3 separate regions of the Homo sapiens genome follow, and all the other regions are linked to region 3. The links come from fine-mapping of genetic effects on gene expression. A gene starts in region 3. Each other region holds a variant in brackets. All regions are shown on one strand. Distances are from middle to middle.

What was found.
Region 1: its variant is fine-mapped to the expression of SORCS3 in whole blood (TOPMed, PIP 0.97).
Region 2: its variant is fine-mapped to the expression of SORCS3 in whole blood (TOPMed, PIP above 0.99).

The regions. Positions count from the first base shown.
Region 1 is chr10:104,977,655-104,988,014 of GRCh38, forward strand. The region is part of intron 4 of SORCS3 (sortilin related VPS10 domain containing receptor 3); the gene reads left to right. Among named protein-coding and RNA genes, the nearest start is that of SORCS3-AS1, 320 kb to the left of the region's middle. The variant G/T (reference allele first, on the strand shown) is at 5,960.
Region 2 is chr10:104,586,661-104,597,020 of GRCh38, forward strand. It overlaps LOC105378464 (a long non-coding RNA gene), which reads left to right. Exons shown (of 8, transcript XR_007062285.1): 3 at 8,056-8,175; 4 at 9,348-9,452. Among named protein-coding and RNA genes, the nearest start is that of SORCS3, 49 kb to the right of the region's middle. The variant T/C (reference allele first, on the strand shown) is at 4,475.
Region 3 is chr10:104,634,813-104,645,172 of GRCh38, forward strand. SORCS3 (sortilin related VPS10 domain containing receptor 3) reads left to right here and starts at 6,478. Exons shown (of 27, transcript NM_014978.3): 1 at 6,478-7,142. The coding sequence starts at 6,516.

The sequences.
Region 1 (10,360 bases), 340 kb after region 3:
TTCTGCTCTTAAGTATCAAAATATGTAGACAGGTATATTTCACTTATTGACAATGCTATTATTTCCTTTTCTTTTCTTTTTTTTTTTTTTTTTTTTGACACAGAGTCTCGCTCTTTCACCAGGCTGGAGTGCAGTGGCGCGATCTTGGCTCACTGTAACCTCTGCCTCCTGGGTTCAAGCGATTCTCCTGCCTCAGCCTCCTGAGTGGCTCGGATTACAGGTGCCCACCGCCATGCCCAGCTAATTTTTGTATTTTTAGTAGAGACGGGGTTTCACCAAGTTGGCCAGGATGGTCTCGATCTCTTAACCTCGTGATCCGCCCGCCTCGGCCTCCCAAAGTGCTGGGATTACAGGCGTGAGTCACCGTATTTCACATTTTTAAAATGACTTTCTTTATAATTTTACTCATTTGACCTTATTCAAAACAACCCTGTGAAAGAAGTAGGACATACATAATATTTTATAGTGACATAGTAAACGAAAGTACAGAAAAGCTATGGCTTATTCAAACCCTCCAAGCTAGAAGCTAGGAGCCAGGGCTTAAGTACATGTTATCAGATTCCACCTCGAGGCATATTCCATCACACTATGCCACCTTGATTTGGTGACATTGGAATATACCATTGCTCTTAGTTGAGTTATAGAAGGGAAGCTTCAAACAAAGTCCATTTTGTTATTTTCTAAAAATACATTAAAGATCTAGTGACCCCAATAAGACCTCCTTCTTGAGCTCCAAATACGTATATTCAGCTGCATACATAGCATTGTCTGTCTCTTGTATGCCTCAAAACCTCTCAACTCAATGTATTCTAGAAATGAACTGGAGATCTCGCCCCAGCATAGCTGGCTCTCTTCCAGTATTCCCTATCTCTAGCCATTTAATTGCAAAATTAGAAACCTAGGGAGTATCTTTAATATTTCCTTGTTCTAAACCCACCATCTGTGATCAATCATGGGATCTAATACCTTTTTATTCCATCCACTTCTTTCTGTTACCACTTCTAAATATCTTTTGATTCCATCCTCTTCTTTCTGTTACCACCACTACTCAAATATAAGTTTTGTTTGTCATCTGAACGATTGCTAGAGTCTCTTCCAGTATGTTAATACTACAACCTGAAAAAATATTTCCCAAATATAATGATTGTGTGCCTTTGCTTAAACCCTTCTCACATTTCCTCTTTGTTCACAAACTAAAGACCACAGTCCCCAGTAGATATTACCAGCCCCTGCCTGATCTGGTCCCTCCTTCTCTCTCCTGGTTCACTGTTATCACTTCCCCTTGAATCTTTCAGTTGCTTGCCCTACCTCTGCCCCTTGCTCCCTTCCCTGTGCCTGGAATTCTCTTCTTTAATGTAAGTCTCATCATCGTCAGATCTCAGATCCAGCATCACTTCCTCAGGACACCTTCCGTAAACTCCCTGATGAAATCAAATCCCTTTTGATGTTCTTTTTCGTAGCACTATGTATCCCTCATTCAGAACACTTGTCACAAATGAGATTTTGTGTTGATTTTTGGGGTCATCTGCATTCCTCACTAGATTACAAGCTCTATCTTGTAATCAGTCCTCAGTGTCTATCCGTTAGATGAATGAATTAGTGGATGAATGCTTAAATTCTGTAGTTCTCTATATTTGATCAACTTATACTTAAGAAAAGACATTTTAGATGATTTCCTCTTTGTATTTCCTGACATCTCCAGAATCGTACTACAGTGCTTGATGCCAAACTATTATGTAATAATGTTGTGGAATCAATCAGTGAAAGGAAACAGATAATTCTGAGCACTGTCTTACATAGAGATATCCACAGAACAACCTTGGTTGAAATAGCTTCTTCACTCTGCTCTCTTAAATACTGAAACAGTTGCTCCTCAGTGTATATTTGAATATGTGATTGTGAATTTGTGTTTGTGTGTGTGTGTGTGTGCATGCGATCATGTGATGTCAGCACCTTTAAACAATAATTTCAACATAACCTTTCTATGTCTCGTTAACCAAGCCTCATGGTGGGTGCCAGGTGCTTAATGCCATCCCCTAAGGACACCCACATGACATTTGCAGAGGAAAAGCCACTGCAAATATATTTCTTTCATGGCATCAAGTGGATATTGTATGAAAGACTTAGCCAAATGTCAGATAGTCTGTGACTTTAGAGGCTTAGTATAGCCAGAAATTTTGAAACAGTATTGAAAAAAGTAAATTATTCAGATGTCATTAAATGGTTGGATGGTAATTTATTTATAAGAAGCTCAGACCTCTTAAAGCTTATTTTTATTTCTATAGAGGCAAGCTGGGTTAGAGGCAACAGACTACTCATACCAAGAGGTTGATAAACCAAATGCAATATGTCTCCTGTGTATCTAAGAGTATCCTTTGCCTCCATCTCCACAGCACTGAGAACATCTGGGGCATTGCTCATGAAGTACCCTTATGGATATAATGCATTCAAAATACTTTCAGACTTGGTGGCTGCTCTTTCACTTGCTAAAAATATTTGAAAATGTGGCAGTGGGTGTTGATGGATTTTTCTAATCACACTGCACATTTCTAGATATATTATTCCTTAGGTACTCTTTCTTGTTGACATCTTTTGCGTAAAGTGGCTGAATGTTCTTCAGGCCCATAAAGTTTCTAACCAGTGCTTGGCCGTTCTTCTTTTAAATAAATGATGTGTGAAAGCAGATGATGCCCCTGGCAACACTTGCAGAGATGGCATAAAACACCTAGCCCCAGTCATCCAGGTTGCAGAAGAGTTTTTCTTTATTTTGGGGGTAATTTAGTAGTTTAGAGTCAAGGAGAGTGATGCTGTGCAGCAGCAAATGAAAATGCAAGTGTAGTTGAGATTGATATACAAATGTGTTATTTCAGACTAGAGCCTTCTCTGATGTGCATGCATGAAGGCAGCTGTTTCCTTCTAGAGAAAATGAAAAGTGCTAGTATTAAGGTAACTGCAGCATCAAAGGGAGATGTTTGTGGTGAGGAGTGAATCGATGTTTCCATTATTGTGCCTTTGATGAAATGCACTAGAAATTTCTTTAGAGTTGGTAAGGCTATCTCGTTATGTTGTATGTATTACAAAAGACCTAATTGAATGATATTTTAAAAGGACAGTATCCAATTGCTTTACTTTCCCAAATGCTACCCCAAAGCTACAGAAGACTTGCCAGTAGATCTCACTCAGTAAAGGCACTGCTGGAGAATTAAAGAAATACCTTGTGGATAAAACAAAATTGCATCTAGAAATCGAGAGATGCACATCACACTCTGCTAGTGATATGTGGCTGTTGGGTTGTGAGTTAACTGGGAAACATGTCTACCTGATACCGGCCAAGGCCTGGGTGTGGGGAAGATCTTCTGAGTCCTCCAAAGCTGCAAAGGGGTGGGGGGCAGATGTACCTTCCATTTGACCTTGCTGGAGGGTCATACCTCTGCAATCCTGATGCACCCCAGTCTACTAAAGTCCTTTCTGATTTCTGGTCAGCTTAATTTGGGCATTTGATCAATTCCTTCTCTTCTGACCATCTTATGAGCTTCCCCACTCCTTCTACCTCCCATGCCAGCTCCTTCTCTGGCCTATAGATTCTCCTGCCATCTTGCATTTTAATTTAAAAGGACTCAGTAAAGACAAGAGATTCATTCTTGGGTATCTTTGTAGATATTTTATAAGAATTCCTGAAGTTTAAAAAAGCAGTGGAAGTAATAGGTTATGGTTGACCAAATTGGAAATGACAAAAGAAAAGCTACTCTCCTCCCTCCATCTTAGAACAAAAGCTCTATAACTTCTTTTGAGGGCTGTGTCTTTGTCAGTTATTTAAGTGGTAGGATTCTCTTTTGTTTCCATCAGGCTATTTCCTCACTGATGACTGAAACAGCTTACACTGTGATGTGTTTAGATTAGCTGGAGGGCTCAATAATCTTATTAAAACTGAGACTTTTGGAAAGATTTTGAGATAGGTTTTGAAGACAGTGCAATCCTAGAAATATAGCTGCTGTTCTCATTGCTGTACAGAGCTGAATGTTTAAACATTCCTCATTTTGACAAGAGACTGCAGTTTTTAAAAAAATGGGCACATGCTCATGTATTCACAGATGCATACATCCTGGCACAGGGGGCCTTCCGTAGGAGATGGAGAGCTGAAAATAGCTATTTTTTTTCTGCGTGAGAGGTAGGATTGCAAAGCTCTCTAATACCGTTTATATTCTTGGCAAAATGAAACTTTAACAGATACAGCTGGGTTTGGAGATCAGAGATGAGCTCAATGGGATTGCAGACTCCATTGTTTTCAGACACTTCTGGGCCACAGTGGTCTAGAATTGCCCATAATTTTGATGTAAAAAGCACTTTCTGAAATGCTAGCACACATAATGAAGGGTTGCTGTTATAGTATTAATAGTTGGGGAGTGGGCATGCAGCTAAGGATTTTTGTTGATCACCTCCTATCCGACAAGATCAATAGTAGCTGACGGATTGACAGACTGGTTAAGCAGCTGATGCAGTGTTAGGCGTGGTAGCTGGCAACACAGGACCCAGTACAGAGGAGGTGCTTGTCCCACGCAGGCTTTGCCAATTGGACTGTAACTGGGGCAGGTGCTGGAGTGTATCTGGATTTCAGAGGGCCTAAAAATTCAAAAGGAAATGTAAACTTGACTTCTGGAATGCTGGATCCAAAGAAACTGTGACTTTCATTTATATTCTCATTTAAAACCCTCAGATTAAAAATGTAATTTTGTTGAGATCCTCCAGGATTAGTAGGCGATGATAAGTTTCTCAGTAGCTATTGGCAGAAACAGGCTTCCTGTCTCCTCACCTGGTGGAGATAAAGCTTCTGGGGATTAACTAGGGATGACCATGGCTTTGAAGCTTTTCCTCTGAGGAATATGAGTGGGACTGAAGGGCACTTTTCACTTAAAGAAAAACATTGCATTTTTATTAGGTCCTTTTCCATTCTTATAAAAATGATTTATATATAATTTAAGAGAAATATCTCTAGCTCTGCTCACCTACAGCAAGTGGCCACTGCTCTTACAGGTGTCTCATTAGTACAATGGAGGTGTGCTATCTTCATCACCATAGAAACACCAGGAGGTAGAGCAACCACCTAATGGGTGTGGCCCATAATCAGAGATACCCTGTGATATTTGAATGTTACCACTGATCTATTTGAGCAGAGTTCTGAATGACAGAACTGGTTTAATGTTAGCTATGAACTTGTATTCAGTGAGAGAAGGGCAGTAAGGATCTCCATTCATGTCAGTGTTGTTTTCAAGAACATTCATTCGAATGAACAACCTTTAGCAAAATGTGGCTCTGGTGGCCTGTGTCACCCCAAGCATGCTTTTTCTTTTCTTTTTTAATTTTTTGAAATGGAGTCTTGCTCTGTTACCCATGCTGGAGTAAAGTGATGCAATATTGGTTCACTGCAACCTCCATCTCCTCGATTCAAGCGATTCTTGGGTTCAAGCCTCCTGAGTAGCTGGGATTACAGGCACCTGCCACCAGACCCGGCTAATTTTTATATTTTTATGTAGAGATGAGGTTTTGCCATGTTAGTCAGGCTGGTCTCAAGCTCTTGACCTCAGGTGATCTGCCCTCCTCGGCCTCCCAAAATATTTGAATTTACAGGTGTGAACCATGCACCGCACCCAGCCCCAAGCATGCTTTTTCTATATGATGTCCTAGACTTTCTGGTCTCTTCTTCACCTTCTTGGTGTCCATTTTAGTAACCTGATACATTTATTAGAGGGAAAATCACATTTGCTGAAATGGAAGATACGGCATGTATATGCTTTAAGAAGGGTACTCAGGCAGGCAACAGTACCTTTCCCAAAGCAATTATGTTCCCATGATAGAAATTCAGCCATGGCAGTGTTTTAGTTAAGATAGGTGGCTCCAGCCACAGGTGCTCCAGGAGGTAGAGCAATGCAGCCTCAGGTTTCCCTGTGTACTTTCATCTGCT[G/T]CCTCTATGAGCTGACCTTGTCTTTATGTACGTGCTGTTTTTTTCTGTTAATAACACTGCCCTAGTGCTGACTACTTTGCTTGAATCCAGATCCTAGATTTCTCGTTTTCCAGTTGGACTCAGGAATTCTTCTGCTTGTCCCTTCCTTTGCAAGTCCCTATGACCTTAAGCTCTTGTCTGCCCGACCAGGCCAGGCCACTTATGCTCCCTCCATTCTCTGCCTATATCTTGACCACTCACTGTGGTATGAAGGCACCTGGCCTTTTAAACTCAGGGTCATTCTTTCAATTTTAAAAATGGGATTTTAACATACATACCGAAAAGCATACATCTCATGAGTCTGATGAATTTTCATTAACTGAATACACTCATGAAACCAGCAACCTGATCAAGAAACACCACTGGCATCTGAGAATTACTTGCGTGCTTTTTCAGCCACTACCTTCCACCCTCAGTGGAGCCACTCTCCGTCAAGGTCATTTTTTATTTCATGCAGACAAACTAGGAAAGCAACAGATAGAAAATAAGTTTTCTCAAAAGAAATGTTAGAAGGTAGCAAGGGAGGTAAACAATAGAGAAGAAGAAATACTTTAAATGTTAATATTAGAGAACTAGACTAAACCAAATACAAGAATTTATTGACATTCAGTAATCCCAGTTAATCAAGAAAATTCATAAGGACAATTTGAAAAAATTTTCATTTAAAATTAACAGGTTTCAGTTTTTAAAATGTATCACTTTCTGTACGATAATTATAATACCCAGTGTCGGGTATTATATTTTGAAATAGTATTGATGGGTGTGCAAATGAATTTTCCTTCCTGGAAAATATCTTGGCAATATATATCAGAAAACATACACATATTCATAACTTTAACCCAATGGTTCAGTTCAGAAGCTCTAGGCATAACAATGCTTATCAAAGTCATTTATAATGGGAAAAACTAGGAAGAAACTTACTGCCTAACATTAAGGGACTTTAAATTATGGTATATACATTTACTGGGGTATTATGCAACCATTAAAATAGTGACCATAATATCCATGTAGCGACATAGGTATATATTAATACCTATTAAATACATACAGGCGTATCTTGGAGATATTGTGGGTTCAGTTCCAGGCCACTAAAATGAAGCAAATATCACAATATAGCAAGTCATGTGAACTTTTTGGTTTCCCCATGCGTATAAAAGTTATTTTTATGCTATACTGTAGTCTATTAAGTGTATAATTGCATTACGTCTAAAAAATGTACATATCTCAACTTAAAAATACCTTATTGCTAAAAAATGCTAATGATCATCTGAGCCTTAAGCAAATTATAATCTTTTTGCTGCTGGAGGATCTTACCTTGTTATAGATGACTCCTAAGGGTGGTGGTTGCTGAAGACTGGGGTGGCTGTGGTGATTTCTTAAAATGAGGTAACAGTGAAGTTTGCTGCACTGACAACTCTTCGTTTCAGGAAAGATTTTTCTGTAACATGCAATGCTGTTTGACAGTTTTTTACCCACAGTATAACTTCTTTCAAAATTGGAGTCAATCCTCTCCAGCCCTGCAACCCTGATAAATCTTGCTTTATCAACTACGTTTATGGAATATTTAAAATTCTTTCTTGTCATTTCAACAATGTTTACAGCATCTTTACTAAGAGTAGATTCCATCTCAAGAAACCACTTTCTTGGCTCATCTGTAAGTAGCAACTCCTTATCTGTTCAAGTTTTATCATGATATTGCAGCAATTTAGTCACTTCTTCAGGCTCCACTTATAATTCTACTATTCTTGCTATTTCTACTGTGTCTGCAGTTACTTCCCCCACTGAAGTCTTGAACCTCTCAAAGTCATCCATGAGAGTTGGAATCAACTTCTTTCAAGCTCCTGTTCATGTTGATATTTTGATCTCCTCCCATGAATGTTCTTAAAGGCATCTAGAATGATGAATGCTTTCCAGGAGGTTTTCAATTTACTTTGCCCAGATCCATCAGAGAAATCACTGTCTATGGCAGCTATAGTCTTATGAAATGTATTTCTTAAAATAATAAGACTTGAAAGTTGAAATTTCTATTTGATCCACGGTCTGCACAGTGGATATTGTGTTAACAGTCATGAAAATAACAATCTATTTGTAAATCTCCATCAGAGCTCTTGAGTGACCAGGTGCATTGTTAATAAGCAGTAATAGTTTGGGAGGAATCTTTTTTTCTTAGTAGTAGGTCTCAACAGTGGGCTTAAAATATTCAGTAAACTATACTTAAACAGATGTGCTGTCATGCAGGCTTTGCTGGTCCATTTATAGAGCACAGGCAGAGGAGATTTAGCATAATTTTTAAGGGCCCTAGGATTTTTCAAATCATAAGTGAGCATTGACTTCAACTTAAAGTCGTCAGCAGCGTTAGCCTGGGTGAGTCTTCCGTCCTTTGAAGCTTTGAAGCCAGGCATTGACTTCTCCTCTCTAGCTGTGAAAGTCCTAGATGACACTGTCTTCCAATAGAAGGCTGCTCATTGAAAATCTTGTTTTGTGTATCCGCCATCATCCATGATCTTAGCTAGATCTTCTGGATAACTTGCTGCAACTTCTCCATCAGCACTTGCTGCTTTACCTTTCACTTGTATGTTATGGAGATGGCTTATTTCCTTCAACCTCATGAACCAGCTTCTGCTACTTCAAACTTTTCTTCTGTAGCTTCTTCACCTCTCTCAGCCTTCATAGAATTGAAGAGAGGGCTTTGTTCCAGATTAGGCTTTAGCTTAATGGAATGTTGTGGGTGATTTGATCTTGTATCTAGACCACTAAAACTTTCTTTATATCAGCAATAAGGCTGTTTAATTTTCTTATCATTTGTGTGTTCACTGGAGTAGGACTTGTAATTTCCTTCAAAAACTTTTCCTTTGCATTCACAATGTGGCTGTTTGGCGCAAGAGACTTCACTCTCAGCCTCCTGGCTTTCAACGTGCCTTCCTTACTGAGCTTAATCATCCCTAGCTTTTGATTTAAAGTGAGAAACATGCAACTCTTTCACATGAACACTTAGAAGCCATTGTAGGGCTATAAATTGGCCTGATTTGAATGTTGTTATGTCTTAGGGAATAGGGGTGCCTGAAGACAGGGAGAGAGATAGGAGAATTGTCAGTAGATGGAGCATTAGGACACACATATTTATGGATTAAGTGAACCATTTTCTACAGGTGTAATTTGTGGTGCACCTATACAAAACAATTACAATGATAACATCAAAGAACACTGATCACAGATCATCATAACAGATATAATAATAATGAAAAAGTTTGCAATGTTGTGAGAATTCCAAAAATATGGTGTAGAAACACAAAGTAGGCACATACTCTTGGAAAAATGGTGCTGATAGACTTGCTTGATGTAGTTGCCACAAACTTTAAATTTGTAAAAACCCCAATATCTGTGAAGCACAATGAAATGATGTATGCCTGTACGCATTACATATTACATATATAAATATATACAACTGCGTACATAATATATATTAAGACATACTTTTAAATACAAGTATGCAAAAAATAAGGTAAGGTAAAGAAAGGAAGGAATGAAGGACGGAACGAAAGAAGGAAGGAATGAATGTAGGAAGGGAGAAAAAAGGAATGAGGGAGAAAAATTATTTTAAAGAATGGAAGGAAATATTCCCAAATACTAGCTAGGTCCGTTAAGATGATGGAACTATGTTTGTGGGGCTTTTTTTTGCATACCATTTCTTTTCCAAATTTTTTATTATTTCATTACATTGCTTTCATAATTAAAAATTCTTTAAGTAATATACCATGACTAGTTTATGTTTATCCTAGTTATAAGGCAGTGCTCTTAAAAAATGCTTTAGATGTGAATGGGGCTGATTTAGTAAAACCCTTTCAAATCATTATTTAATCCCTTTTCAAGAAGGAGTATGTTGTAGAAGAAAATTTCCCTGAACTAAAATATGCAGCCTGAGATTTCTCTTTTCTTCAGCGTTTTTTTCACTGTCGTCCTTTTAGAACTCTGAAATTCTAGGAATATTTTTTTTTCTCCTAACAAAAAGTGTACTCTTGTTGGATGTAACCTCAATCTATATTATTTACAACTCAGCAACAAATGTAGGGTTTATTATTCAGAACGCACCCACCATAGGTAGATGTTAAGGAAGTGATTTATTCTGGTAGTTTTTCAGATGAATTTTCCGGCTCCATCCCAAAATTGAATTAGTATTTGCTTATTTGCTTTGACAGCTGTAATGGAAATAAATGATTCTGGAGCCAAGGGGTGTAGACAATTCTAATGCATTGAGCTTTGAGCCTAGGAACTCTTACATGCCCCATGTTACTTTACTCAGAGTTGGACGTATAGCTGCTCCTTGGAAATAGAGATACATGTCCTGAAGTACCACCTTCCCAT
Region 2 (10,360 bases), 48 kb before region 3:
TATAGGCTGGAACATGCTGGTCAGCTAGAGGTCATGGGTTGTTATTGTTGTCTTTTCCTCCATCCTCAGCTCACAGGTTCCCAGCAGGGCTCATCTGGGTGAGTGCTGAGCTTAGGGGACCTGGGAGAGCCCAGTAACTAGATTAAGGCCACTTTGGCTGCAAGTGACAAAACTCTTCTCAAATTGGCTTAAGCAACAAATAGGAAATGTTTAAGGACACAACGGGTATCTTACAGAGTCTGGGGATGGGAAGGAGGTTGAGCCTTAGCCCACCTGGAAGCAGGGGCTGCCACGGATGTGTGCCTCCTGGATGTGTCTGGGGTGGGCTGTGGCTGCTAGTGGCTCCTGGGATGGGGCTGAGCCTAGTGGGGAGAGGGGGAAGATGAGGAGGAGGCGGATTCCATCCAGCTCTGGTCTTCCCTTCCTGCCTCATCTGGGGCAAGACCTCACTTTCTCCTGCAGTGGGTGGTGTAAGGGTTCCATTTGAAATAATGGTTCTGTGGTGAAGAAAGAAATTGGAAATAACTAGATAATTTCTTGGCCTCTTCACAAATTCTATAGCTTTGAGGATTACAACCACTTGATAGTCACAAGTGACAGGAGCGGTGCTTGAAGAATAAGCCATTTCTTCACTCTGTGATCATTTACCCAACAAAGGGGGAGCAGCTGAGGGTCGCAAGGGTAACAGATGAGCAAGGTACAGCAATGGCTGTGAAGGTGCCGCCTGTCTGGTTGCTATTCTGGAGGCTGGGTGTTCCAGGATGTGGTTTTTCACTCAAGGTCTCTGTACTTTCCTTTTATCTTTCTATTAAATTTTTTTTGATAGAATCTTTATATATGCGCGCGCGCGCGCGCGCGCGCGCACACACACACACACACACACACACACACACACACATATACATTGATGCATTTATTTCAACGATTTGTTCGACACATACTTATTGAGTGCCTACCAGGGGTTCCAGGCTCTGCGGATAGAGCAGTGAACAAAACAGAATTGGTGCGCTGTCCTCCTGGAACTAACTGGTTGGGATGGGGTGTGATTGCTTCTGCTTGATGCTGGTATTCCCACTTTCTCATCAGCAGTAAAGTGCCATGGCCATTTGACTCCTCAACAAGCTTAGCCCTGATCTTTAGCAGGCTTGTCAGTCCTTTAAATTAGTTTGGAAGGTTTCAAGTAGTGATTCTTAAAGTGTGTTCTGGAAACTCACATGGGTTATTTTTATCATAAAGCTAAAACACTTGTCTTTTTAAAATCTCTGTCATGAGTGAACAGTGGAGTTATCCAAAGTCTACACAATGTGTGAAATCAAAACAGATTGAATGGAGAAGCAGACATATGACTCCAATTGACTTCTATTAAGCCAGCCAATATAGAGATTTGCAAATAAGCAAAACAATGCCGCTCAATTCACTAGTTTTTTAAATTTTTGAAAATATAGTTATTTTTTAAAAAAACACCTAATTTATATTAACATGTTACACGTTTATGTTAAGGTACAATACATTTATTGTTTTTAATGAATTAGTGTCTTTTTTAAATGCTTTGGTTTTAATTTCAAATATGGTAAATATCAATAGATATAATCCACACAAAATTCTTTGAGGTTCTTAATTTTTAAGAGTGTAAAGGGGGCTGGGCACAGTAGCTCATGGCTGTGATCCCAGCACTTTGGGAGGCCAAGGCAGGTGGATCACCTGAGGTCAGGAGTTTGAAACTAGCCTGGCCAACATGGTGAAACACCGTCTCTACTAAAAAACCAAAAATTAGCCAGTCGTGATGGTGGGTGCCTGTAATCCCAGCTACTCAGGAGGCTGAGGCAGGAGGATCACTTGAAACCAGGAGATGGAGGTTGCAGTGAGATTGCGCCACTGCACTCCAGCTTGGGCAACACAGCCAGATTATGTCTCAAAAAAACAAGAGTGTAAAGGGGTCTTGAGACCAAAAACTTTGACAACTGCTAATTTAGAGGCAAAGGGTATTGCATGTGATGGGAGTCAGCATTCTCAGTAGCAATGAAATTGATTTAAAGCATATTAGAGAAAGAATTGTAAGGAGGCTCTAGAACCAGTCTCAGAAAGCTACCAGGATCTAGGAAAACTAGGAGGTCAGTTGCGGCCAATGTCACAGAACCAGGCTGGTGAGGACATCACTGTGTACTGCTGAGCGCAGGACACCATAGTTTCTCCTCGCTAACCCTGGAGGCACCGCCACCCTGGAAACTAGAGGCTGCTCCTGCCGCCAAACCCTCTGCCATTCCTGATTCTTTTTGTTCCCGGCTCATGTGTGAGGTCTGGGATGGATACATCTCACTGTGGGCCTAGGTCGTGGTCCAAGGCCTGGCAGCCACAGAGCCGAGGGAAGTGAGTGTGACTGTGTGGGCTCCCATAGAGGGAGGTGGGCCCAATCTCTCACCCAGAGGCAGGTGTAGAAAGTGATGGGCAGCCGGACAAAGTTCCCTTCAACCTGGTGTGTTTCAGAGAATGTCCTGGGGCTCTGTTTGCCCTCTCTAACCACATCCCTTGAGAAATCAGGGGAGCTAGAGATGGAGGGCAGTCAGTGTTACTGCTTCTGGCCCAGTCTCCTGTGTACTTTTGTTTCTAAGCCTCGGAAGCTTAGGGATCTTTTGTGGCTGGATGATGGCAAGGTGCATGGAATATAGAAAGAGGTCAGGAGAGTCTCTTATACTCCTGGGTCTGCCTCCTTCCTCAGTGAGGGGGAGGATGGAACTTAAGAGTATAGTGCAGCAATTAAGAGCTCAGTTTCTGGAATTAGACAGTTTAGCGGTCCCAATCTTGGAGGTGCCTTCTGCCTCCCTGGAGACAGCTGTTTCTGGACAGGGGCCAGCGGGCCATGTCAGGGAGACATGAGAGAGGGAGGAGGGAGACAGGCGGCAGCAGGAGCAGAGCTGGCTGGACAGGGCTTTGTCCACTTGATAAAGCTGGCATGTTCCTTCCAGCTGTCCCTGTGATGCTCGCTTATGTCTGGTTTTCTCATGACTCAGAGCCACAGGGCAGGCCTCTCCAGCAGTAGGGAGAATTTGGATTTGGATATGGTTTGAGAAGAAATGAGGTAGAAGACTGTCTTCCTTTGCTGCCACCCACCACAACTCCCCAGGCCAGTGCTGGATCCCTTCTGGTGATCAGTGAGCCTGGGGACAGCCTGCCAGTTAGAGCTGGTGACCACTTTGGCTGGAGGTCTGCAGGAGTGTACAGGACCCAAGAGCCAGAGAATCATTCCTTTCTCCTAGGAAGAGGCAATGAGAAGCCAGAGAGAAAAATCATGGACAACAGCATGGGCAATGGAATCCTGGGACCGAACGGCTCCTGACAAGAGTAAGTGAGGCTTTGAGCTCCTGGAGGGCAGGGACAATACTCATCTCTGACTCATTTCCCTGGCATCTGATGGACTGCCTCTCAGGATGGGTAACCACAGCTTGCAGGGAGCCCAGTCAGGTTCTGGCTCCCCCTTCCCTTCCCAGTACCCTCTTCCTCACCCAGTGTGCTCCTGCTAACACCTGGACCTCCGATCCGCAAGAAATTGCCTCCTAAACAAGTTCCTATGAAGGTGTCAGGCTGAATGTGCTCCTGTATTAAGGCTACTTGAATTTTAAAGGAAACAATGAAGAGGGCATTGCTTTATCCAAATTGGCAATTCTCTAATGCATGTTTTTACTTGTTTCCCCAAGAGTGTAACAGGTGTTTTCTAAAATTCTTTTATTAAATTCTTTGTCAAGTGAATTTGGGAAATCTTGGATGTTATAGCTCCTCCTCAAAGATTTAAAATGCACAATGTTGGCCAAGCATGGTGGCTCATGCCTGTAATCCCAGCACTTTGGGAGGCTGAAGCAGGCAGATCACTTGAAGTCAGGAGTTCGAGACAATCCTGGCCAACATGGAGAAACCCTGTCTCTACTAAAAATACAAAAACTAGCTGGATGTGGTAGATGCCTGTAGTCCCACCTACTTGGGAGGCTGAAGCATGAGAATCGCTTGAACCTGGGAGGTGGAGGTTGCAGTGAGCCAATCTCATGCCACTGCACTCCAGCCTGGGCAATAGAGTGAGACTCTGTCTCAAAATAAATATAAATGAATAATTAAATAAATAAAATGCGTAATGTCATATTAAAGGCTCTAGGAGGTCCTGTGAGTTTTAACCTGTTGGATTTTTAAGAAATAAGTCTTATTGAGGTATGGTTTACATACAATAAAACTTGCTCATTTTAATGGTGCAGTCTAATCAGTTTTGATGTACACACTCAGGTAACCAACATGACAGTTGAGGTCTAGGACATTTCTATCAGCTCAAAAACTCCCTCATGACCCTTCATAGTCAATTCTCTTCCTCAACGTGCAACCCCTGGCAGCCACTGATCTGTGTCTTCTATAACTAGAGTTGAGCCTTTTCTAGAATTTCACAACAATTGGAGTCATCCAGTAAGTTGTCTTTTGTGTCTCTGGTTTCTTTCCT[T/C]AGCATGATGTTTTCTGAGGTTGAGCTGTGTTGTGTTTATCAATAGTTTCTTCCTTTTTATTGCCAAGTAGTATTTCACTGCACGGATGTGTCACTGTGAATCCACTCCCCAAGTCTGAGTGGTTTCCAGTTTTAGGTGATCAAGAATAAAACCACTATGAGTATTTGTGTACAAGTGCTTGTGTGGCTGTGTATTTTCATTTCCCTTGGGTAAACAACTATGAGTGGAATTGTTTAATTTTATTTGATCAAGGGACACTTAAACTGAACATCTGTTAATGAATATTCTGAAAAACACAATCTGGAAAACATGGCTAAAATATTGGGCCTGTCAATACCATCCAGGCCGCCACCCTCACTGTCCTTGGGAAAATGCCAAGCTTATGGTGCCAGGCCCCTTGCTCTGCAGACATTTGAAAGGGGGAATGGGGTGGCCATGGCCTTATCAGACAGAGCTCAGCCGGAGAGGGGACTCAGGAGCTGGAGCCAGTGAGTGGAGTTGGCCTCAGAACTGTGGTATCTTTTCTTATCTAATAGTAAAATCCCAGATGCTAGTTGGCCCTGGTGCCCCATGGTGGAGAAGCAGTGAGTCTGGTCTGGAGCCCAGGTCCCAGATCTCCTTCTCATTGGTTTTAAGTAAAGAGGGAAAAGAGGCTCTGTAGCTGCTTTTCACAAATGTCGTCATTCTCATCAGCAGATGGTAGAGGAGAGAGGCTAATTCAGAACTCCTGTAGCATATAAAACAAAAACCAGCCAAAGGAACCCACAAGGTAAATGATATCATTATAAGGGAAGTAAAGGAAACAGCATCTGTCCCTGCTGTGGCAGGAACCAGAGCTAGGATGCTGGAGAGGTGCCTGCTCCCTGGGCCTTGCAGGGAAGTGGTTCTCACTCAGTGGCAAGGGGAGCTGACGGCTCAGCAAATGCTCTATTAATCCCACCTGAAGAGAAGAACAGTTCGGGAGGGCTGGGCTAGGTCCCGATTTTAAATGTTTAATGCACATCTTGATCTTCCTTTTATTTGTTGTTGGACTGTCTGGACAGACTCTTGTGATTTTCCAGGTTTGTTGATCAATTAAAGTTGGAGAAGACACATGGTTTATCCCACCGCATGCCTTCTGATAGGTCATAGTATGTTGAAACATCCAGGGATAAGTTCATCTGATTGTGGGCTTAGCTGATATAGGGGCTGAGGGTGTGGAAGGTACCTGCCTTTTGCAGCAGCCTGAACAAAGAATTTAAAAACTCCGTTCCTTGCCTTTAGCTCCACTGGGCTCTCAGACCCCACTGGAGAAGAACAGGGAAGAGACAGCTCTTTTCTGCAGCCACCTTCCTAGGCATTCTGTGGTTTTGCTGAAAGAGCAAAGGCTTCTGGAAACAGACCCATGTTCCCGATCCTGGCTCTGTCACTGACGAGCTAAGGCCAGGGCCCTCTCTTATGTCTTAGTCTCCTTGTCTGTAAAATGAGGGCATGTACCCACTTCAGAGGTGTTAGGAGGAGTATATACACATGATGCCTTATGTGGGTACAGTAGTGCCTAGCACAGTATTAGCTGTAGAATAAATGGGAATTCATAACCCCTCATTTCTAGATCAACCCCTGTAAGTCCACCCAAGAACACTGTGTGCCTGAACGAAAGGCAGGTAGGAAGAAGGCAGGGAGGAGAGTGCTTGGGTAAAAAGACACTGTGGTGAAGCATTCCTCTACTGGAGCCCCTTTCTCAGAATCCTAGACTCCTAAAACACCAGGATTGGAAGTTTCTTTGGAGGTCTTTTATTCAACTGTTCACTTCATGCAGGAGATGACTTTCCAAAGTCCTTGCCAAATGTCATCCAATTTTCCCTGGAACATCTTCAAAATAGTGTAGTGGGTGCAGAAATAGTCTCCACCACTTCCTAACCCTAACCCTGGGCTAGTTCCTTAGCCTCTCCCTGTCTCAGTTCCCTTAACTGTAAAGTGAGAGCAATAATAATAGGATTGCTCTAAGGACGAGTTAATACCTGTGCCTAAAGTGGTCTTTGGAAAGCGCAACCTCTCAAAAAATACCAACTTTAAACACGATTATTATTGCTATAACCTTTTCAGGGTTGAGGACAAAGCTATGGCTGGTTACACCCCAAAACCTCCCTGGCACCTCAGGGCAGCTTTGGTCCAGAAAAGGAAGCTCTCTCTGTCTTCATGAAATTTCCACTTAGGCATCCATTGATTATCCTTCTGTTCAGATTTTAATTTTTTTTTGGAGAGCCATCATCTCTTCCCTGGGTCTCTTCCTCTTTCATACTTAGTGCTTTATACCCAAGAGAATATTATTACATCGAACATGAAATTGTGGTTTTGGAGGTCAAAAACTGTCAGGTGTTTCATACGATTCAACCTGCACAGAAGCAGTGTCATCTTTGGGTCCCTGGAGTCACAATCACCACAGTTACTTTGGGTACCTGATTCCGGGTCCCTAAAGAAGATCTGAGAGGAGTGCCTAGAAATCTGCATTTCTAACAAGGTCTCCACTGACACAGTAGAAAGAACACTGGCCTGGGAACAGGAAACCCAAGTTTGAGGACCAGTCCTGTTTCTAGCTGGCCACATAACCTTGGGAAAGTCACTTCAGTCTCTAGGTCTCTGCTCTCTTTTATCACCACAATGGGAATTGCAAGAAAGTGATCTTTAAGATTACCCCCAAGCCTGAACTTATATGGTTTATAAAACACTTACTGGGTGCCTATTAGGAACTGAAGGTCACAAAAGATATAGTTCAAGCCTGCAAGGAGATTACTCTTGTTGGGAAGATTGAAACCAGATGAAGAGGCAGAGCAAAACAATGTGGAAGATAATACAGTACGGTGGCATCAGTGATATCACCGTGGAGAAAACGGTTACCTGCAAATGTGTATTACTTCTATAGAAGCAGTGACGTGAGGCCTCTGTGGGTAGCGTAAGCTTCCTGAGGGAAAGGCCAAATTTGAGCAGCATCTTAGGTTGAGAGAAGGAAGAGTCAGCTTATCTTCTTTTCTCTTTGATAGTCCCAGCACTGGCTCCTAAAATTTCAGCAGTCTTTAAGGTACTACCTATGTTCATTTGCTCATTCATTCATTCATTCATTATCTACCTATTCATGAATATATATTGGGTGCTTACATATGGTGAACAAGATCAAATTAGTCCCTACTCTTAGAGAGCTTAACATTGTAATGAAGGATATGACAAATATTAAACAGATTAAAAAAGTGGTGTAATGCTATGAAGAGAATTAAAGCAGGATGAAATAGTAACTGTGGTTTCTTCGGTTTGGGGGTAATGGTCAGAAAAGATCTCTCAGAAGACTGAGAAGCTATGACCTGAAAGTCAAGAAGAAGCCAAACAGGGCACGATCAGGGAAAGAATGCTTCAGGTAGAGGAAACTGCCAGTGCTGAGGATCTACAGTGGGAATTTACAGGAATGAAAGAAACGCAGGAGAAGAGGGGAGAAAGGCAGGAGAGGGTACAAAATATATCTGGTACAGTAGGCAGGGGTAAGATTGTGAAACGCTTCATAAACCAGAATAAGGATTTTATATTTTATGCTTAATTCTACATGCAATAGGGAACCGTTGAATGGCTCTAAGAAGAGGAACAACATGATTTGACTTAGGTTTTTGAGGGATCTCTCCAGCTACAGATTGAAGAATGATTGTAAAGAGGGTGAGTGGAAACAGGAGGCCTGGTGAGTATGTTATTGCAGAGTGGTCCGATGAGAGACAGTGATGGAGCAGACTAGTGAGGGAGCAGGTGGGGAACAGGGCACAGGTGTTTAATCACTCAGGGTAGAGAGGGTAGGGGAGAGGCACACAAGGAGATAAGGGAAGGGCTCAATATTTAAAGCACAGTTTCTTAAACAGTTTTTCCTGCTCTAGTGGGAAAATCATGCACTCGCAAGAACAGTGTATCAATTCAATGGTGATTCTAAATTGGGGTTCCCCCGGAAGATGTGACAGCATATTGTTGCTGGAGGAATGTAGGGGGCATGCCCTACGCCTGCACCCCAGCAATTGCCACATGGTTTATGTTGTGACTGTGACACAAGTCCTAATTGTGAGAGAGGACCCAGGGTACTGCTCAAAATGATAGGAAACATTGACAAATCCTAGCCCAGTTTGACTTTTTGAAAGCTTGTTCCTTGCTATTTTGACCCCCAAGTACATTTTGATTTCAGGTCTGTAAATAAAATTATTTGTATTAGAATAATAAAAACATTAATTTTTTTGTTAAGATGATTTTATAGGGTAAATTCTAATAAGTAAATTTAATTCTTTGATCATTTTTTATCTGATGCACCTAAAAATTTCCAGCCGAAGCTGGACCTGGTGGCTCATGCCTGCAATCTCAGCACTTTGGGAGGCTGAGATGGGAGAATCTCTTGAGGCCAGGAGTTTGAGACCAGCCTGGGAAACATATTGAGACCCCATGACTACAAAAAGTTTTAAAAATTAGCTGGGTACAGTGGCATTAGCCTGTAGTCCCAGCTACTCAGAAGGCTGAGGTAGAAGGATTGCTTGAGCCCAGAAGTTGGAGGCTACAGTGAGCTATGATTGTGCCACTGCACTCCAGCTTGGGTGACAGAACAAGACCCTGTCTCTTAAAAAAAATTCAATCATTTTGGTTTTCATTTCCATTTTCATTATGAGAAATTCTATTCCATATAACCAGTTTTTTTTGGAAGAGTTTGAAAGGATTAGTTCCTCAAATTTTTGGTAGAATTCAGTCATCACTCAGGTTGTTTTTTTTTCCATAATGATGTTTTTAAGTTCAATTTCCTTAGGCTTGATTTCGCAAATTTAAATTTTTTTCAGACATATGATTCTTTACTAAGTTTTAATGATAATGAATATGTTTCAGGTTCATCCTCTCAACTCTCTATTTGTGTCCAGTCAAAATTCGCAATGCCAACACAATAGTTTCTAGTCCCATGATCCACTGAGAAAAACATGGATTCTTTAAAAGGTAAAATACATATTCAACATGATGCTGCACTCTCTTCCCCTCCCCCCTCAAAGGCTGACACTACTAATTCACCGCTGGCACTTCCTATGGATTGAGAGACAGCTGTAGCTGATATTGAGCTTAGAATCAGATGGTTCAGACATCGAACCATTTCTGCATCAGCTGGTAAACAGCTGTGGCCTGGAGGGCTCCTTTTGGACCTCCCTATGCTGACCCAGCAACTAAAGAGTTAACACCCAAACCAGCAGGGCACCTGGAAGATCCCAGAAGGGTTGGGGTGAGGGTGAGGGTTGGGCAGGGCAGGGTTGGCCAGCACTGCAGCTGGCCATTTGTGCTGATTGGTGGATTGTTAACCTTTTTGAATATCACTCTGGGGAACAGTTTAAGAATCTTTCTCAGTACAAGGCTCCAGGAAGACATTACTGAATTGATCAAAGTTGGTACTTTAGATGAAACCTATTTATCACCCCTGGATTAAGGTCTTATCTCCCTTAGGGATATTTGGTTATAAACAGTGTGCTCTGAAGGTTAAAGAACCTCCAGGGCTCCAGGAACTGGACTTCTACTGCTGTACCTTCAAGTACCCTCCTTGGACAGAACTGGGGGCTGAGGCCAAATCACAGTTCCTGATCTGGATTGGCCTGACCTTTGAACATGAGATAGGGCAATCAATGGGGACGGGCACTAAAATGAACTCTAAGACCCTCCCCTCATTGCCAAGGCTTCTAGCACAACAAGAATGGCTTGTTCAGGCCTGCATTCAGTCTTGACATTCTGCAGTGTAGAAGCCAGGGGCATCAGTGGTTTCTCTGCTACATGTTTTCATTTTTGTAGAAATCACGTTGCCTATAGATAGCAAAACTAGCTTGGTATAAAAACAGCATGACTTGTGCCCTTAAAAATATTAA
Region 3 (10,360 bases):
TGGCAGCAACATTCAGCATTCAACTCTTGTGGTGCTTGTTAAAGCTGTAGCATCTAGGCTTATTGATGCTGGTAATAGGGTCCTTATAGGACCAATTCCGTGGTGTGATTTCAGGTGTCATTCCGCCTGCAGAACCCCTGAGCCTAGCTTTCCAGCCCGCCCAGCAATTTTGGGAGTTACTCAATATCATTTTCATAAGATAATTTTCTTTTTTTTCTTTTTCTTTTTTTTTTGACACAGAGTCTCACTCTGTCACCCAGGCTGTAGTGCAGTAGTGTGATCTTGGCTCACTGCAGCCTCTGCCTCCTGGGTTCAAGCAATTCTCCTGCCTCACCCTCCTGAGTAGCTGGGATTACAGGTGCTCACCACAACATCTGGCTAATTTTTTGTATTTTTAGTAGAGACTGGGTTTCGCCATGTTGGCCAGGCTGGTCTGGAACTCCTGACCTCAAGTGATCTGCCTGCCTTGACCTTCCAAAGTGCTGGGATTACAGGCATAAGCCATCATGCCCGGCTGCTTTTCATAAGATAATTTTCTCCAAATTTGTGTTGGAGAATTGTTTTCTGTGGCTTGCAATAGGAACATTGATACCATGAAATAAGGTGTGGTGGAAAGTAGTATCAATCAAGTCCTAGAGCTTTTGCCTCTTTAGAAAGTTGACATGCTAAAAAGAACAGGTGGTTAGTAGCTGCAGTGGAGGTATTATTATTTACATTCATCTGTTTTGTTTTTTATTGCACATTTATTGAGGGTCATCGCTGTGCCAGGCATTGGGCCAGGTGCTAAGGATACAGTATTGAGCAAAACAGACACTTCATGGACACACAGTGACAGGAAGTCCTAATTGCAGTGATCATCTGGCTGGCTTTGTCTGCATTTCAGGTTTTGTTTCATAATCATTTGCCTCCTTAGAAATTCAGAGTTACAATGTAGACTGTTGTTTGATGTTAATCAATTAATTAATTTCCTATTTAGTTCTAAAAAGAATGTGAAGTGGCTTATCAAAAATACGCAGATATAGTAAGATCAAAGAGTATCAAACAATAAAAACAGCATTTAGTAAAAAGGGAGCAGAGGATAAAAATCTTGACTGAAGACCATTAGAACAAGTTAACTCGGTACTCAGCGTGATTATTGAGACAAGAGGAAGACAAAGTGAGAAGACAGAGCCAGTTAAAAGAGCCTTTAAGAAAGGATGTCAGTTTCACAGGAGAAATACACGTTTTAAGAGAAATTTGCTTTTAGGTCCTCATGTAAGAGGTGCTGAACATTTTATAAAATACGGAAATAGGGCTGGGCATGGTGGCTCACGCCTGTAATCCCAGCACTTTGGGAGGCCGAGGGGGTCGGATTATCTGAGATCAGGAGTTTGAGACCAGCCTGGCCAACATGGGGAAATCCCGCCTTTACTAAAAAAAAACAAAAAACAAAAAAACAAAAATTAGCTGGGCATAGTGGCGTGTGCCTGTAATCCCAGCTGCCTCAGGAGTCTGAGGCAGGAGAATCAATTGAACCTGGGAGGCAGAAGTTGCAGTAAGCCGAGATCGCACCACTGCACTCCAGCGTGGGCGACAGAGCAAGACTCCATCTCAAAAAAAAAAAAAAAAAAAAAAGAAAAAGAAAAGAAATCGGCATCATTTGAATGCTTCCCTATCTGTGCCTGCTGTGAGTGCTGATGGCAAAATATCTATTAGATTATTGAGGGTCTGGAAGGGTAAGGGTGTGTGTGTGTGTGTGTGTGTGTGTGTGTGTGTGTATGTGTCTGTGTGTATTTGTGATGTCAGGGAGAAGAAGCACAGTTTCCCAAAGTGTTATTTCACTGTGATGGTAAAAAACAAGAAACAAAAAACAAAACAAAACAAAAAACCGGAAAGAAGACTTATTTGGGTGACATTTAGTGTAATCTCATGGATAACTTACAGTATACAGTTTGCTTTCTCCAGTTGTTTTTAACAGGGACAGAAGCCCTGGTGAGAAAATGCATTCCCAGTGGGCATTTGTTGCCGACCCTATGGGGACTGTGTGAGAGCTAATCCTCACTCTCAACCTGCCTTTCCCAGCTGAAGTAGGTATTATGTCAGCAAGGGAAATGGAAGCCCCCTTTAACCTTTGTCCTTTCTTTTAAATTCCAAATTGATATGGGACAGCTCCTATCTTATAGGAAGACAAAGAATTTGATGATGATGACATGATGATGGTAATAATAATGATATAATAACAAGTACTATGAGGCTGTGGAGGCAAGCTCCATGGAAGAGGATTCTTCCATGAAGAAGGGTTCTTACCATGAAGCCCCTTCCATGTTGAATACTGTGGCAGAGGACACATTCCAGGCTTAAGGAATACAGTAAGAAAGTTCATGGAGGTGGGGCAAGTACATGGAGCTTTGGATACCATTCTAAGAAGTTTGGATTTTATAAAAATGGTAGGTCATTGAAAAATTTTGAGGAGGGCAATTCATGATATAATCTTCCTTATGTTTTAAGAGGCTATTTCTGTCAACAGTGTGGAGCTGTGTTGTTTAAAACAGTAGCCACTAGTCACATGTGGTTATGAAATGTGGTAGTGAAAAAATGTGGGTGGTCTGAACGGAAATGTGCTGTAAGTATAAAATACACACTGGATTTTGAAGACTTGGTACAAAAATATGTAAAAATACATCAATAATTTTTATGTTGATTACAAATTGAAACTATTTTTGGTATCTTCAGTTCAATAAAAATTAAAGTTAATTTCATTGGTTCCTTTTTATTTCAATAAAGCTACTAGAAAGTTTAAAATTTCCTGTGTGGCTTACATTACATTTCTATTTGAAGGTGCCAGTGTGGAGGCTGGCTAGGAGAAGGAAAGAACCGAAGACCAGGAGAAGAGAGGAAACTATTGCAAAACCTTAGGCAAGAGATGTTGAGGGTCAGATATAAGGCAGTGACTCTAGGAATGAACAGGAGAGGAGTGGTAAAAAAAAAAAAAAAGGCTTTTTAAAATAGGACGAGACAAGTTATGGGTGTGGGGATCCAAAAGAGGGAGTCAAGCTTGCAAGTCAAGTGTCTAGTCTAGGTGACTAAGAAGATGTTGGGGTGATGGTTTTAGGTTTTGCTGCATATGGGTTTCAAGGTGAACACATAACACGTATGAAGCAATGAGGAAGTCAGGTGTGAAGCTCAAGAGGGGATGTGGTGAAGTTGTAGATCCAGGAGTCAACACCAGGAAATGGTAGTAGAAGGACAGAAATGGGCCTGATCTCCGGGCTCATTCAGACAAGGAGAAAGGGAAAACAGAATGAGAGCCAAGCACGGAGAATTGGGGAAAATGATGGAGGCTGGGGCTCAGAATTTAAGATGTGGATAAAAGAGGACAAGCTTGACTGAGGCTGGCCAGGGAGGACCCAGAAGATCCTAGTACCATGTAGATCAAAGGAGACCTTTTCAGATGGGACAAGTTTACACATGCGGGAAGAAGAGGTTGTTGAGTGAGGCTGTCAGGCGTGTTGGGGTAGGCCTTTGACTGAGTCGCCTAAAAGCAGATGTCAAATTGCAAAAAGTCCAGGAGTGAGGAAGAGGATACTGTGGGTTCAGGTGAGAACTACTGGGAGAAGTTTGGGCACTAGAGAAGGCTAATGGGGACTCGGAAGCAGGGGGTTGGAGGCAGGGGGCTGGGGGTGGGGGCAGGGGCAGCTCAGGGCTGAGGGCAAGGATTTTCAGGCAAAGGGTGAAGGAGGGAGAGGCTGCAGGTGGAAGAAGACTGTAATTGATGGGAGCAAGGCCAAGAAAACGAACTGGTGCAGGAGGCATGTGAAAATGTCACACTTGCGGGAGTCTTTCCTTTTTTGTTTGTTTTCAAACAAAAGCTTTTAAGCTACATCTCCTCAAGCCCATCCCAAGGATCCAACTCTGCCCGGGTTCCATCTGGTAGGGCCTTCTTCAGACAGGAGAGACAGAAGGAGGCCCCTCTCAGAGCGTCTGCCTCTTTTGCACCCGACTGCTCCTGCTCAGAGGCCGCGGGAAGCTGCGGGGACTGGATGGTGCACCTCCCCAGTGCGCATAGGACTTGGGAGACCACACTCCTCCGGGCTGTGTGAGCCTCGGGTCCGCCCAGATCTCTTATACTGTGGCACCTCCGCCCAGAGCCTGAAGAGAAGAGCAGCACCGCGTCCCTCCCGAACCCCGAGCTTCGGCTCGGGCTGCAGCGCCGGGCCTCCTCCGGCAGGGGCGCTGGGAACTCGCGGATGGCCGGCTCTCGTCCAGCGCCCGATCCCGCGCCCACCTGGGCCTGCGGCGCTGGAACTTTTCTTAGGAATACCCGCTACTCCCTGTCTTTGGAAACCCACAGATGCCAGGACCCGCACCATTCTGGGCCGGACGTTGTCGCTGGCTTGGTTCTTTGGCCCAGCCTCCCCCGCTGCTAATTGCCATTTTGGCACCGGGTGGAAAGGCAAGTTCAAGAGGGCGGGGGCTCTCGGGAATCGCTGGATGTCTTCTTCCTTGGCCAGCTTAGATTCTCAGTCGCCTCTTCTGCCTCCTCCATCCCTCTTGGCTCTTACCTGGCGCCCTTTCGCCTCCTCTTCTATCTCCCTCTTCCTTTTGCACCATTCTCTCGCCCCTTTTCTCCTTCATCTTGTCTTTCCTCTCTCCCCTTTTCCCTCTATTTTCTCCTTCATTCCTTCCTCTCACCTTTCTTTCCTCTCCGCGCATTCCCCTCCCTCTCGCTCCACTTTAACCATCTTCTAGAGAGGAGGAACTCTATCTACTCCCGAAGGGGAGGAGCAGGGCTGGAGGCTGTCTCTCTCTCCCTAAGCCTCCTCCCTCCTGCCTCCTCCTTTCTTAATAGCTCCTCCTCTAGCTCCTCTAGTCTCAGACTTTTCAACCCCTAGAATCCCAGGGGCTTCTCGGAGGCGGCGAGCTACACCACATGTCCTGGGGCCTGTAAACCGCAGCTCGAGGTCGTCTGTGGGTTTAGCTCATTTCCCTTCAGCCCACCTGAAGTCTCCTTCTTCCTACGGTCACGAAGGATCTCAGCTGCACCAAGCGCGCAGGCTACACTCCTGCAGTAGCGGATTGGGGACCAGATAAGCCCACGCGGCTCCCGCCTGAGTACCCTCTTAACTGGCGGCCGACACTTTGAAACAATTGAGTCCGTTCAGAAACGGACTGGGGAGAGTGAGGGCACGACCTCAAAATCCTAGGCAGCAAAATGAGGTCTGGATCCTCCCTGGAAGAACAGACATCTCGACTACTCTCTCGCCCCACCTCTGGCCGGGAGGTCGGGGCAAGGAGAATCCCTCAACCGAGAAGATCTGGCAAGTCCCCGATCCCACCGGGGCCTTCCGCCTCTTTTCCCTCATCCCCTAGGAGGCTTTATCAGGTTCTAACCGCTTGTAGTGGGGGCCGTGGGTGCTCGGGGCGCCAAGAGGAGGGGGCTGCCGAGAGCGGCCTGCCTAGTTCTCAGCATTGCCTCTTTGACCACTCGCAGGCTCCTGGAAATGCAAACACAGCCCGTGCGTGATCCGCACGCGACCAAAAGCCGAGCGCACACCTCCCGCCCCCGCCCCACTTGCCATCGCTCACACTAACGTGCACACATGCTCGTGCAAACGCGCACGCACGGAACCGCGCGCCCCCTCACACCCAGCCGCGCTCCCGGCCCGGCTCAGCCAGGTGCCCCCACGCGGCAGCGCCCGGTCTGCCCGCCGGCCCCCTGCGAACCCCTCGCCTCACGCCCGCCTGCCTGCGCGCACGCACGCGCACGCACGCATTCCCCACGCCCCCGCGCGGGGGCGCAGGCCTTGGGTGGCGGGGTTTGGCCGGGAGCCGGCCGGGCCAGGGAGCGGCGAGCAGAGTCCAGGGTGCATCCCGCGCTTGGCTTCCGTGCGCAGCCTCCCCGCGCGGAGGCACCTGGCTCCCTCTCGGCTCTAGAACGCGAACAGTTGGCGTTGAGCACACAACTCCTCCTCCTTCTCCCCCGAGACCCCTGTACCCTCCCCGCGCGCCATCTCCCGCCCCTCATAACAGGCCCGAAGAGTAAACCCCCAAACGCGTCCAGAAGCGGCTCCCAACTCTTCGCCGGGAGCACGTTGGAGGCTGGATTTCGGAGAGACTCGGGATTGGGGTCTATTGCCGGCCCCTCCTGGATCCGGCTTGATTTTCATATTTTAAGAAGATTTTCTTATTACCTTTGATTACTCCTTTTTACCAAATTTCTGGAGGAGCTCAGTGGGGAGGATTGGGGGGAATCTGATTTTAAGAAAGAAAGCACCGAAGGGGCAATTATTAATTTTCCTCGGGTTTGGAATCACCCTCTGGACAAGAGAACGGGCGAGCGGGAGCTAGGAGGGAAGAGTGGAGAGGACCGGCGAGGCGCGCCAGCCGGAGCCACCTCCTTCCCGGCCGCCCCCTCCCCACTCCCCCTACACACACACGCTCGCTCGCTCGCCGGCGCGCGCACACCCCCCGCGCCGGACCCGCACCTCGGCGGGCGCCACACACTCGGCAGCCCGAGCCGCGGTAGCCGCAGCGGGATGGAGGCGGCGCGCACGGAGCGCCCCGCAGGCAGGCCGGGGGCGCCGCTTGTCCGGACGGGGCTCCTACTCTTGTCGACGTGGGTCCTGGCCGGCGCCGAGATCACTTGGGACGCGACAGGCGGTCCCGGACGCCCGGCGGCCCCGGCTTCGCGGCCACCGGCGTTGTCTCCACTCTCGCCGCGGGCAGTGGCCAGCCAGTGGCCGGAGGAGCTGGCGTCGGCGCGGAGAGCCGCCGTGCTGGGGCGCCGGGCCGGACCAGAGCTGCTGCCCCAGCAGGGCGGCGGCAGAGGCGGTGAGATGCAGGTGGAAGCCGGAGGGACATCACCGGCAGGCGAGCGGCGGGGCCGGGGCATCCCAGCTCCTGCCAAGCTTGGCGGCGCGAGGAGGAGTCGCCGGGCGCAGCCCCCAATCACCCAGGAACGCGGGGACGCCTGGGCCACTGCTCCGGCCGATGGTTCCAGAGGAAGCCGTCCCCTTGCTAAGGGTTCCCGGGAGGAGGTGAAGGCGCCGCGGGCTGGGGGGTCGGCGGCTGAAGACCTCCGGCTGCCCAGCACCTCCTTCGCGCTGACCGGGGACTCGGCCCACAACCAAGCCATGGTGCACTGGTCGGGACACAACAGCAGCGTGAGTACCCACCCGGCGGCGGGTCCGCCTGTTTCCTGACACCGAAGGGGAATGGGGGGGTGGGTGGGAGCGAGGGACAGATAGTTGCTCGGGGGTCGAGGCGGGGGACGCCTCGACTTTTCGAGATAACAGGTTTGTCCGATTCCCCCCACGCCCCCAACAGGTTAACGGAGTTTGTTGTTAGACGCTGTGTGTGTTTGTTTACTGGAGACCCTAGGCTTCGGCCGCCGGGAGGGGAGTGGAGGAAGGGGCTTCTTAAAGATGAGTGGGGGAGGGATCTGTGCTCACTTTCTCCAATACTTGGCTTGGAGGGTCAGTTTTCCTGTTTGCGGGGTGCTTGAATTCTTGGATGAGAAAAAGGGCTGACTTGGGGCGGGAGCCGCTGAACAGACCGATTCCTGCGGCTGCCGGGCTCCCCCTACCCCCACCCCACCCCCACCCCCCCTCCCGTCACGCGAAAGGGAACCCGGAAGGCCATTCGGACTCCCAGCCTCCTGCTCGCCTCGGGGTCGCTGCTATCCGCTCCAGGCGCGCAGTCCTCCAGCCCAAGAGGGAGGCTCGGCCAAGTCGGCCCCCAGCCTTGGCCTTCAGGTAACCCCGGTTCCTCCTTCAAAGTCCAGGGAGCGGCCCTGGAAAGCCGTAGCAGAGGCCGTAAAAAAAAGTTTAAAGCGTGAAGCGAAATTCCACACCCATCCAGCGCTCATGCCACACCGCTCGCCCTCACGCACGCACAGGCACACGGAAGTCGCTCAGCAGAAAACTCTCGACTTCACCATTGCGTCCTGCGCCACAAACGGCTCCCTGAGCGGAGTTGGGTGCCTGAGCTTCCTGCACACCTCTCCACCCGCTTTTCCCCGCCACCGGGTTCTCCTGGACAAGGATGTACCGAGAGGTGGCGTCGTTGAGCCCGGTCTGGCCTACTCCGGCATTCCGAACTGGGCGCCCGACTGAGCATCGCGCCTGCCTGGCAGCTGCAGCGGCCCGCAGCGCGTGCCCGGAGGGGCTCCCCCTACCTCGCCGGCACCCAGCGCTGTGCAGCCAAGCAAAGAAAAGGCGGGGGACAGGTTCCCACCATCTCCCCGACTTCCCTCCCTCCCGCGGTCCCTACTAGAGCCAGATTTGGAAAATCCTTTCCTCTTCTCTGGCTCCATGGTTCAGATCAGAACCTGGCGTTGGGTAGGGTGCACGCTCCAGGCGGAGGATGACGGGTGTCTGTACAAGCAGCCTTGGGGAACTGATTTGATAGGAACTCACCCCGCAACTCCCTGCCGTTTTGTATTTCTCTTCATGACCGGTGTTTGACAAAATTTCTCTGGGAAATTTTTGCCTTATTTTAACAGAGCCTGGGATGTCCAGGATTGGGTATCTAATAAGAGGAAAGCGAGGGGTCCGCAGAAGGTAGTACATAAGCAATACCAAAGTGCAGATTTCTTGGTTTCTAATGATGCACAGCGCGGGCAGCCCAGCCTGGGTAGCCCATGCTGGTCTTGAAGGACCAGTGAAGTCCAGCTTCGCAGCAGCGCGATGGCGGGCTTCATCTGCCTGGGATGAAGACCCCCGTAGCCTCGGGCTGACAGCTCTGGCGAGAGGGGTGGACAATGTGTGCCTTTGCAGGGCTGGGTGATTGAAGACTTCCAAGTCCCTTCCAAGAGGACTTGGATATGTGTGTGCTGGGGGGAGATTCTCTGACCTCAGGGTTGATTCTCTGACAGCAGGGGTTGTGAATCCCAACTTCATTTTAGTTTGATAATTAGGGTGTGTGTGTGTGTGTGTGTGTGTGTGTGTGTGTGTTGGGGTTCTTACTTGGTGAGGAGGATGGATGGATGGATAGGATGTGTGGAAGTAAATATATCCTAGGAAGAGGAGGATGCAATGTCTTTACATCTGTGGCTTCCCTACTGCCACATTAGGACAATATAAATTCACCCTCCCTGAAGAGTTTTTCTGTGTCTCTGCTTTTATTTTAAGGATTATTTTTGAGTATTTACAAAGCCTCTGAAGATGGGACTTTAGAGAAAATGCTTCCTGCAAATAGCAGTTAACTGTGCATGGCCTTCTTTGCTCATCTTCAAAGCAGTTGTGCAGCAGAAGAGGTGAGGGGCAGGTCTGGCCCGTGCTCCCTGGGGAAATGACTCTTCAGTCAAATGACGGCCAAAGGGGCTTGGGGACTGGAGCAGTTGGGCTTGGAGACCTTGGTGACAGCAATGAGATTGGACAATGTATGAACAGCCCACAGGGACTTATTGGTTGTGCTCTTGGCCAGCCTTACTGCCCATGCAAGAGCACCACAGGTGGATGTAGGGCCACGCACTGTCCTCTCTCTCCAATCTGGGGAATAACTGCCTCTTTAGCCCCTAGGCTGGACCTGTCTCTTCTGACCACATTTTGTAGGCAATACGAGAGAGAGATCCTTGATTATCAGGTCTGTGAGCCTGTGTAAAGAAGATGGAGAAGCATACTCACATGGCCCTGTCTTTGAGACTTTAAGGAAATCTCCTGGAGAGTCACTGGGAAACCAGTTTCAGCAACATTGACCCAGCTGGTTTTTCTCCTGTCCCCCTTTCCTGATGGCAGGAAAAGAAGGTGTTGTAAATAAAAGCCAGGGTGAAGAGTGATGGGGATGAGGACACTTTGGGAAGATTCCTTCATCATTGGTTTCAAAGTGGAGGGAGATGTCCGTAAAACAGAGAACATGGGGCCTAGCTCCAGGCTCTTATGACGTGGAAAGAGAATTTTATCTTTTATTCTGGCTTCTGGAGTATTAGACATGTCCTTATTCAGGAGGCCACCAGTTTAATTTTTAACACAATGAGGGTTTCCTTGCTCTTCTTCCAAGTGTCTCTGATGCACCTGATTGCTTGATATGAGTTCCCTTTTGGGGAGCGTTTTCAGTAACCCTATGAAATTGAAAATTGAACTCCATTCTGACTGAGTTTACAGTCAGGGATGCAGGGTGGGACATGAAGGAGAAGGGCCTTCAGCCCACCCCATTGGTCCAGTGTGTGCCCCAGGTGGTTGAGGGTGCAGGAGGAGACCCTTGACCAAGGCTTGGGCTGGGTATTTGCCTTGGTCCCAGGACTGAGAAGAGATGGCTTTGGGGACAAAGGAGAAGGAGTGCAACTGGCTTTGGGCAAAGGAATCAGGAGGGCATGGGATCTGGGTACCACCTCTTGACCATGTTGCCTGCCAGGTGCTCTGGCTGGAAAGTGAGTGGACTT